Homo sapiens: one gene and its partner. The protein of the gene in region 2 interacts with the protein of the main gene of each other region in a biochemical or structural test. Each region holds a gene or a part of one and is shown on either strand. Other genes may lie near its edges.

Region 1 (3,746 bases), on a different chromosome or scaffold from region 2:
AAGAAAAAAAAAAACCCACCCACACAAACACAGAGTTTTTGTTTCCTCTAATCCTTGTTATAAATTACTTGATTGTTCAGTGTATAGCTAAGTCTTACTTTCAAGCAGCAGCGATCGAGTATTATCACAGGTTAGATCCCTTCTGCTTTCAGCTCTTCCTACAGAAATTGTACTCTATACAAGAAGCCCAACTTTGGGGTTTATGGAAAGGTAAACCATAAGTTTTATGCTTATGTTGACAGAAGCCCTGGGTGGGGCCTCTGAATGCTGGTTCAGAACCTGGAGGGGAGATTTCCGTTCCTGGGTGAGACCTGTGAGGCTTATTCTAATTCAGGGCCGCAGAGGACACAACCCTGCTTCACTGCCCTATGTTTACCTTCCTGATCCTTACCTGTAACAAACCTGCACTCTCAGAAGCAAGGCTACAGAGGTTCTTTTCTTGGTCTCTTTCCCTCCCCGAGGTGGCCGGGGTCCTCCACGTCTGGCCCCAGCGTGTCCTCTGGGAACACTGGCTGCCTGGCCGGGTGTGCTGAGAGGCCGGCTGGGAAGGCCACACTGCAACGAACACCTACATTCCAGGTATTGGCAGACGCACTGTCGCACGGTTCTCGCTCTGCGGACTCACTTGTTGAGGTGAGATTTCACTTCCCTCCCGGTGGGTGGCAGCTAACGGATAAGCACACAGAGGAAACTGCAGCAAGCACCTCGTGTTTCCACACACAGAGGCGGCCACCACCCAGTGCCCCAGTTACGCTGGACACCTGGTTCGCTGTGCCTCTGCCTGTCCCAGCGGTGAGGGGTGTGGAGAATCCCTTGGTGGCTGTCCCAGCAGAAGAGCTGACTTCATGTGCTCAGGACACACAGTTGAGGCCTGAGTGGATCTCGTGGGCACTGACACTCATCCCCACGGAGCCTCCCACAGCACATCCTAAGCTCAGCTTGGTTCTGTTGTCCGGAGCCTCCCCTTCTGCCCCTCTCCTCTCCCCCTCACTTCAGACCTCTCAGGCTCTTCGTGCCTTCTGCCTGGACTGTTCTTTAATACTAAAGGTGAAATGAGGAATGAGAGAAAGTGCCTTAACTTCCCACAATAGAAGCTGAATGCTAGACAGAGCCTCAGGTCATATTCACCAAACAGAAGGTCCGAGGCTCTGATTGTGGAAAGAAGGGGACAGGGAGCTCAGGGAGGAGGGAGCTTTCTAGAGGGGAGAGAGGAGAGAGAAGGGTCTTCCATTTACCTGTGCCTTAGACTCAAGGAATTCTCTGGGGGTCTAGACCTCCTGCGGATGAGTGCCCAAGTTCCCACGAGGTACTCAGGACTCTGATCTCAAACCAGGAATTCCCATGCTGGCTTCAGTCCCTGAATCCTCGTGGTCTCCAGCTTGGGCAGTGGTGTCCCTGGCCACGGAATGGCTGTCATGTCATTGCATACCTCCCCAGATACATAAGCAGAGAAGACTGAGTAACGTCACATACCTCAACCAGTAATGTGTTCTTAACTGAATGTCCCAAACCCTTTGTAGCAAAAGAGAAATGAAAGAGAAACCTAAATAACCTTTCTTCGTCTTTCCTGGAAACCCCGCTAAACTAGATTCTCAATGTCATTTTGTGTCCTGAGACTTACATGATAAGAACTTTGTAATAAACCCAGTAAAGAGCTCCCTGAATTAGACTGCCTCATTTGGCAAACAGCTAAAGACCAGGCTGTGTCCTCCTGCAAAGGCTGAGGATGAAGACTGGTGCCTCCTGGTGTTACCTGGTCTGGAAGCTGTCTGTGATTTCTTCTGCTTCAGGTCAGGTGGCAGTAAGGATATTTCTATACCTGAGTCTCTCTCCACGAAACTTAAGAGGAAACTTTCAACAGGTCTTCTTGGCTTGTCGTTTGGAAAGACTCAGGTAGTTTAGAGCCCCAGGCTCTAAACTTTCTTCAGGTTTAGGACTCAGCCTGAAAAGAGGCTTAAAGAAGGAGAACCACTTCCTTATTACGCCCTGCCCCTGGCTTTTTAATTGAAGGAGGGGCTGATCTTTGCCCGTGTAATTTGACTCTAAAAGGAATTCTATATCCATTACCTAGCACTCTTCCTGCCCTTTGGGATAACTAGGTGGGTGTTCTGATACTTCTTTACTATCCTTATCAGTTGTTAGTTAAACAAATGTTTACTGACCGCCTAACATGGTACAGGTACTGTACACATATTTAATCTTTTTTTTTTTTTTGAGACAGAGTTTCACTCTGTTGCCCAGGCTGGAGTGCAGTGGTGCGATCTTGGCGCACTGCAACCTCCGCCTCCTGGGTTCAAGCGATTCTCATATCTCAGCCTCCTGAGTTTCTGGGATTACAGGCTTGCACCAGCACGCCTGGCTAATTTTTGTATTTTTAGTAGAGACAGGGGTTTCACCATGTTGGTCTCGAACTCCTGGCCTCAGGTGGTCTGCCCTCCTCGGCCTCCCAAAGTGCTGGGATTACAGGCGTAAGCCACTGCGCCCGGCCAACATATTTAATCTTAACAACATTGAGAGGCAGGCGTTACGATTCCCATTGCACAGATGAGGAAACTGAGGCTCAGAGAGGTGAAGTATCTTGCTACGGATCCCTATCAGTTGAGCTGAGATCCAAATCGTGCTCTTTCTGGCTTTACACTCTATCATGTCACCTCTCCTATGTGACTCAAAGATTGTGTTCAAGTGGAACCACTGGAAAAGTGTTCAAAAAGGAATCTAAGCACAGCCATAGTAAAAACCACAAAAACCCACTGAAAGGCCAAATGTCATAACTTTAGAGATGGAATTCCCTATTATATGAAATAGGAAACAGTTACATCTGATTTTATGCTCTTTCCAGAGTCTTAAGTGAAATAGATATATATGGCCATGCTTGAGATCATAAACCCTGGACCGCTGGTCAAACTGTGACGATGAAGGAAGTGTGAATAGTGAAAGGGGAATTAATGCTATTTTCGTAAAAGTGGGGAAGAATGGGTCATTTAAATATTAGGCAAACAGATCCACAAGAGACAAACAGATGGTAGTTATGGGAAAGTTAGATATTTAGTAACTCGAGGTGAATTTTCACCAGCAAACTAATATTTTTTGCACCAGTGAGGTCAATGTAGAGGGTATTAAAGAAATACTAAGAATGATTTTTCTCTTTTTATAAAAACTTGCCACCTTTTTTTTTTTTTTTTTGAGACGGAGTCTTGCTCTGTCGCCCAGGCTGGAGTGCAGTGGTGCGATCTTGGCTCACTGCAAGCTCCACCTCCTGGGTTCACGCCATTCTCCTGCCTCAGCCTCCCAAGTAGCTGGGACTACAGGCGCCCGCCACCAAGCCTGGATAATTTTTTTTTTTTTTTGTATTTTTAGTAGAGACGGGGTTTCACCGTGTTAGCCAGGATGGCCTCGATCTCCTGACCTCCCGATCTGCCCGCCTCCACCTCCCAAAGTGCTGGGATTACAGGCGTGAGCCACCGCGCCTGGCCAAAAACTTGCAACCTTTTTTTGGGGGGAGACGATGAGATATATTCACTGGAAACAATTCAAGAATAAACAGGGTCTGGCTCAGTGTCTCAAGCCTGCAAGCCCAGCATTTTGGGATGCTGAGGTGAGAGGATCACTCTGAAGCCAGGAGGATCACTTGAAGACCAGCCTGGACAACACAGTGATGAGACAAGAGTTCTTCAGGACTGGTTTGCAAGGTACAGGTCACAAAGACACCACTGATAAAATGACATGTAGTAAAGCAGCAGCCCAAA
Region 2 (3,746 bases):
CCAAGTGCTGGGATTACAAGCGTGAGCCACCACGCCGGGCTCAGAATGGTTTATAATGTGGCCTGTAACACATTTAATTAGCATCCTGCCCTGCTCCCTTGCAAAGGCTTCTGGGAGCACCAACAATGAGGCACTCATTGGGATTGATCTGCCCATCTAGTTGGTCCACAGTAGTTACACAGAAAGGACAGACCCTTGGGAGAAACAAGCCCACGAAGGCCCAGTAAGGGCTTTTCTGATTTTTCTGATTTTCTAGCCAGACTCCATGGGAAACAGAAACCAAAATTTAAACCAAAGTTAGGAACACTGGCCTCTAAACAACAATCCAGGCTCCTGATACTCACCTCATTCCACTAACAAAGGAGAAATACCAAAGGTAATTACCCGTCCTAAGTGCTAGGGACCTGATTCCTCTCTTGGGCAGCCTTCCCTGAGTCTACCCTTTCCAGCTCCCACAACCCTACACCAGGTTTCTTGGTGGGAGCAATCCTGCTGCTCCTATTACTGATACAGCATTCGGTGAAAATTCCCCTTTTAGGCCGGGCGTGGTGGCTCACGCCTGTAATCCCAGCACTCTGGGAGGCCAAGGCGGGCGGATCACCTGAGGACACGAGCTGGAGACCAGCCTGGCCAACGTGGTGAAACCCCGTCTCTACTAAAAATACAAAAAATGAGCCGGGCGTGGTGGCGGATGTCTGTAAGCTCAGCTACTCGGGAGGCTGAGGCAGAAGAATCGCTTGAACTTGGGAGGCGGAGGTTGCGGTGAGCCGAGATCGCGCCATTGCACTCCAGCCTGGGCAACAAGAGCGAAACTCCGTCTTGAAGAAAAAGAAAAAAAATTCCCCTTTTAGTGTGAGCCTCTGAAGCCACTACTCTGGGGAGATGATAGGAGAGGATGGATTTGGACTCTGAAAAGGTAGTGATAACACATCTCCTTTTTTATTGCACTGCCCCAGTAAACTGAGTTGTACAAACAGAAAAAACTCGAAACCCTTCTGTCAACTTTTTTCGCGGGGAAGAGTCACGGAAACTGGAAACGGGAAATGGGAATTCACGTCTATCGCAGCCTCCTAGGTGGCAAACGCTTAGCCTGAACACCTCTTCAATAACCCTGTTAAGTAGACACGGTCATTATCCCCACTTACGGAGAAGAAAACCGCGGGTCGGAAAGGTCAAATATCTTATCCAGGGAACAGGGCTGGTAAAGCGCGGGGCTCCGATGAAATCCTCCAGTCTCCCGAGAGCCAGGAGCAAACTGGGTTTGGGCCGCTGCGCCCCGCACAGCCCAGACCCCAGCCATCAACTGCGACTGCGGCGGGCAGGCGGGAGAACTGACCTGAGGGGCGGAGGGCACGGCTGAGCGGCGCCCGACAGAAGGACAGGGGCCTGCTGTCCTGAGAGACGCGGCTGGTACGGCGTTCCTAAGAATCTTTTCGATCGCCGGGTTGTGGCCGCTTCCGCCCGCCAAGGGAATCAAATCTCCCGGGCCGGAAGGGGCGGGGACGCGGCGGGGGCGCGCGCGGCGCCGGATCCCAGGGAAGCGGACGCGCACGGCAGGCGGGGGCGCGCACAGTGCCGGGGGGTTCTCACCGGGGCAACGGCTCGCGGTCGCTGTGGAGCCGTGAAAGGGATGGCCGGGAGGTCCACTGGGCTGCGAGGGGTGACTTGAGGCCTTGGTCTTGCCCCGGAGGGCACGTGATGATTTTCCAGGTGGCGTGGATATGCCAAGTCTCCACAGAACCCAACTTTCTTACGTTCTCTTCCTAAAATTGACGTGCCCTCTGGCAGTCACAGTTCTCATTTTCGTCCTCCCTTGCCCACTGGCCGTTCTCCCACCCAGCAAAGACAGGAATACCTCCCCCTCTCCAAAATGTGTTGCCACGAGGAATAAGAACCCCAGTAGCTGAGACTACAGGCACGCGCCACCACGCCTGGCTAAATTATTTGTGGGTAGAGACGGGATCTCGCTATGTTGGCCAGGCTGGTCTCGAACTCCTGGGCTCAAGCGATCCTCCCGCCTCAGCCTCCCAAAGTGCTGGGATTACAGGCGTGAGCCACTGTATCCGGCCCAGAAAATCTTTAGACAAATTAAACTTTACAGAGTTGAATTGACCAAAGAATGAGTCCAAAATCCAGTAATCCCTGGAACCAAAATAGGTTCAGAGTGATTCGGGCTGCCATATGTTCAAATAACATTTATGGACAGAAAAAGGAAAATGACTTACAGAAATTGCAGTCAAGTATGGAAACAGCTGGATTGGTTGCAACTCAACCTCTGACTATTTTGAGCACTGTTTAAACAGTTGGCCACCTGTGATTGGCCAAAACTCCGCTGCTGTGATTGACTGAGACTCGCTACTTGTTACAAGGTTACAGTCTCTTTACACATTTACAATTGTAGTTGTCTACAATTCACTATGTATGGAGAAACTGTTAGGCCAGGTGCAAAGGCTCACATCTATAATCCCAGCACTTTGGTGGGGGGGCGGGGGCAGATCATTTGGGGTCAGGAGTTCGAGACCAGCCTGACCAACATGATGAAACCCTGTCTCTACTAAAAATACAAAAAATTAGCCGGGCTTGGTGGCGCGAGCCTATAATCCCAGCTACTCAGGAGGTAGAGGCAGGAGAATCTCTTGATTCTCTCTGCTGGGAGGCAGAGGTTGCAGTGAGTAGAGATCGTGCCACTGCACTCCAGGCTGGGCAACAGAGCAAGACTCCGTCTCAAAAAAAGAGAAAGAGAGAAAGAGAGAGAGAAAAGAAAGAAAGGAAGAGAAGGGGAAGGGAAGGGGAAGGGAGGGGAAGGGAGGGGAAGGGAAGGGAAGGGAAAGGAAAGGAAGGGAGAGAAAGGGAGAGAGAGAAAGAAATAAATTGTTAGTCTGAACTTAAAATGCATAAGGAGGCAGCTTTATGCTAAACTTAATTTAACATGGTCATCTGAATCTTCAGCAAATCATAATCTTTTTGCTGGTGGAGGGTCTTGCCTCCATGCTGCTGATTGATCAGGGTGGTGGTTGCTAAACGTTGGGATGGCTGTGGCAATTTCCTAAAATAAAACAACAATGCTGCATCGATGGACACTTCCTTTCATGAAAGATTTCTCTGTAGCATGTGATGCTGTGTGATACCATTTCATCCACAGCAGGACTTCCTTCAAAGTTAGTTCTCTGAAATCTTGCCACTGCCTTATCAACAAAGTTTATGGAATATTCTAAATCTTTTGTTGTTATTTCAGCAATGATCACAGCATCTTCACCAAGAGGAGCTTCCATCTCAAGAAAGCACTCTCTCTTTGCTCATCCGTAAGAAGAAACTCCCCATCTATTCAAGTTGGATCATGAGATTGCAGCAGTTCAGTCACATATTCAGGCTTCACTTCCAATTCTAGTTCTCTTGCTGTTTCCACCAAATCTGCAGTTACTTCCACGAGTGAAGTCTTGAACCCCTCAAAGTCATCCATGAGGGTTGGAATTAATTTCTTCCCAACTCCTGTTAATGTTGATATGGTGACCTCTTCCCATTAATCATAAATGTTCTTTTTTTTTTTTTTGGAGATGGAGTCTCACTCTGTCACCCAGGCTGGAGTGCAGTGGCGTGGTCTCGGCTCACTGCAAGCTCCGCCTCCTGGGTTCACGCCATTCTCCTGCCTCAGCCTCCTGAGTAGCTGGGACTACAGGCGCCCACCACCATGCCCGGCTAATTTTTTTGTATTTTTAGTAGAGATGGGGTTTCACCATGTTAGCCAG

Evidence for each region. The genes of interacting proteins can lie anywhere in the genome.
Region 1: the proteins of MELK (region 2) and BCL2L14 form a complex in vitro, tested with the Homo sapiens proteins (one study listed by IntAct).

The regions. Positions count from the first base shown.
Region 1 is NC_000012.12:12,069,145-12,072,890, reverse strand, and holds the start of BCL2L14 (apoptosis facilitator Bcl-2-like protein 14), read right to left. Parts: upstream 1,953-3,746; 5' UTR 1,754-1,952; intron 1,489-1,753; exon of another isoform or gene 1,236-1,488; intron 1-1,235. UniProt on the Homo sapiens protein: Plays a role in apoptosis.
Region 2 is NC_000009.12:36,570,598-36,574,343, reverse strand, and holds the start of MELK (maternal embryonic leucine zipper kinase), read right to left. Parts: upstream 1,450-3,746; 5' UTR 1,337-1,449; exon of another isoform or gene 1,146-1,336; intron 1-1,145. UniProt on the Homo sapiens protein: Serine/threonine-protein kinase involved in various processes such as cell cycle regulation, self-renewal of stem cells, apoptosis and splicing regulation. Has a broad substrate specificity; phosphorylates BCL2L14, CDC25B, MAP3K5/ASK1 and ZNF622.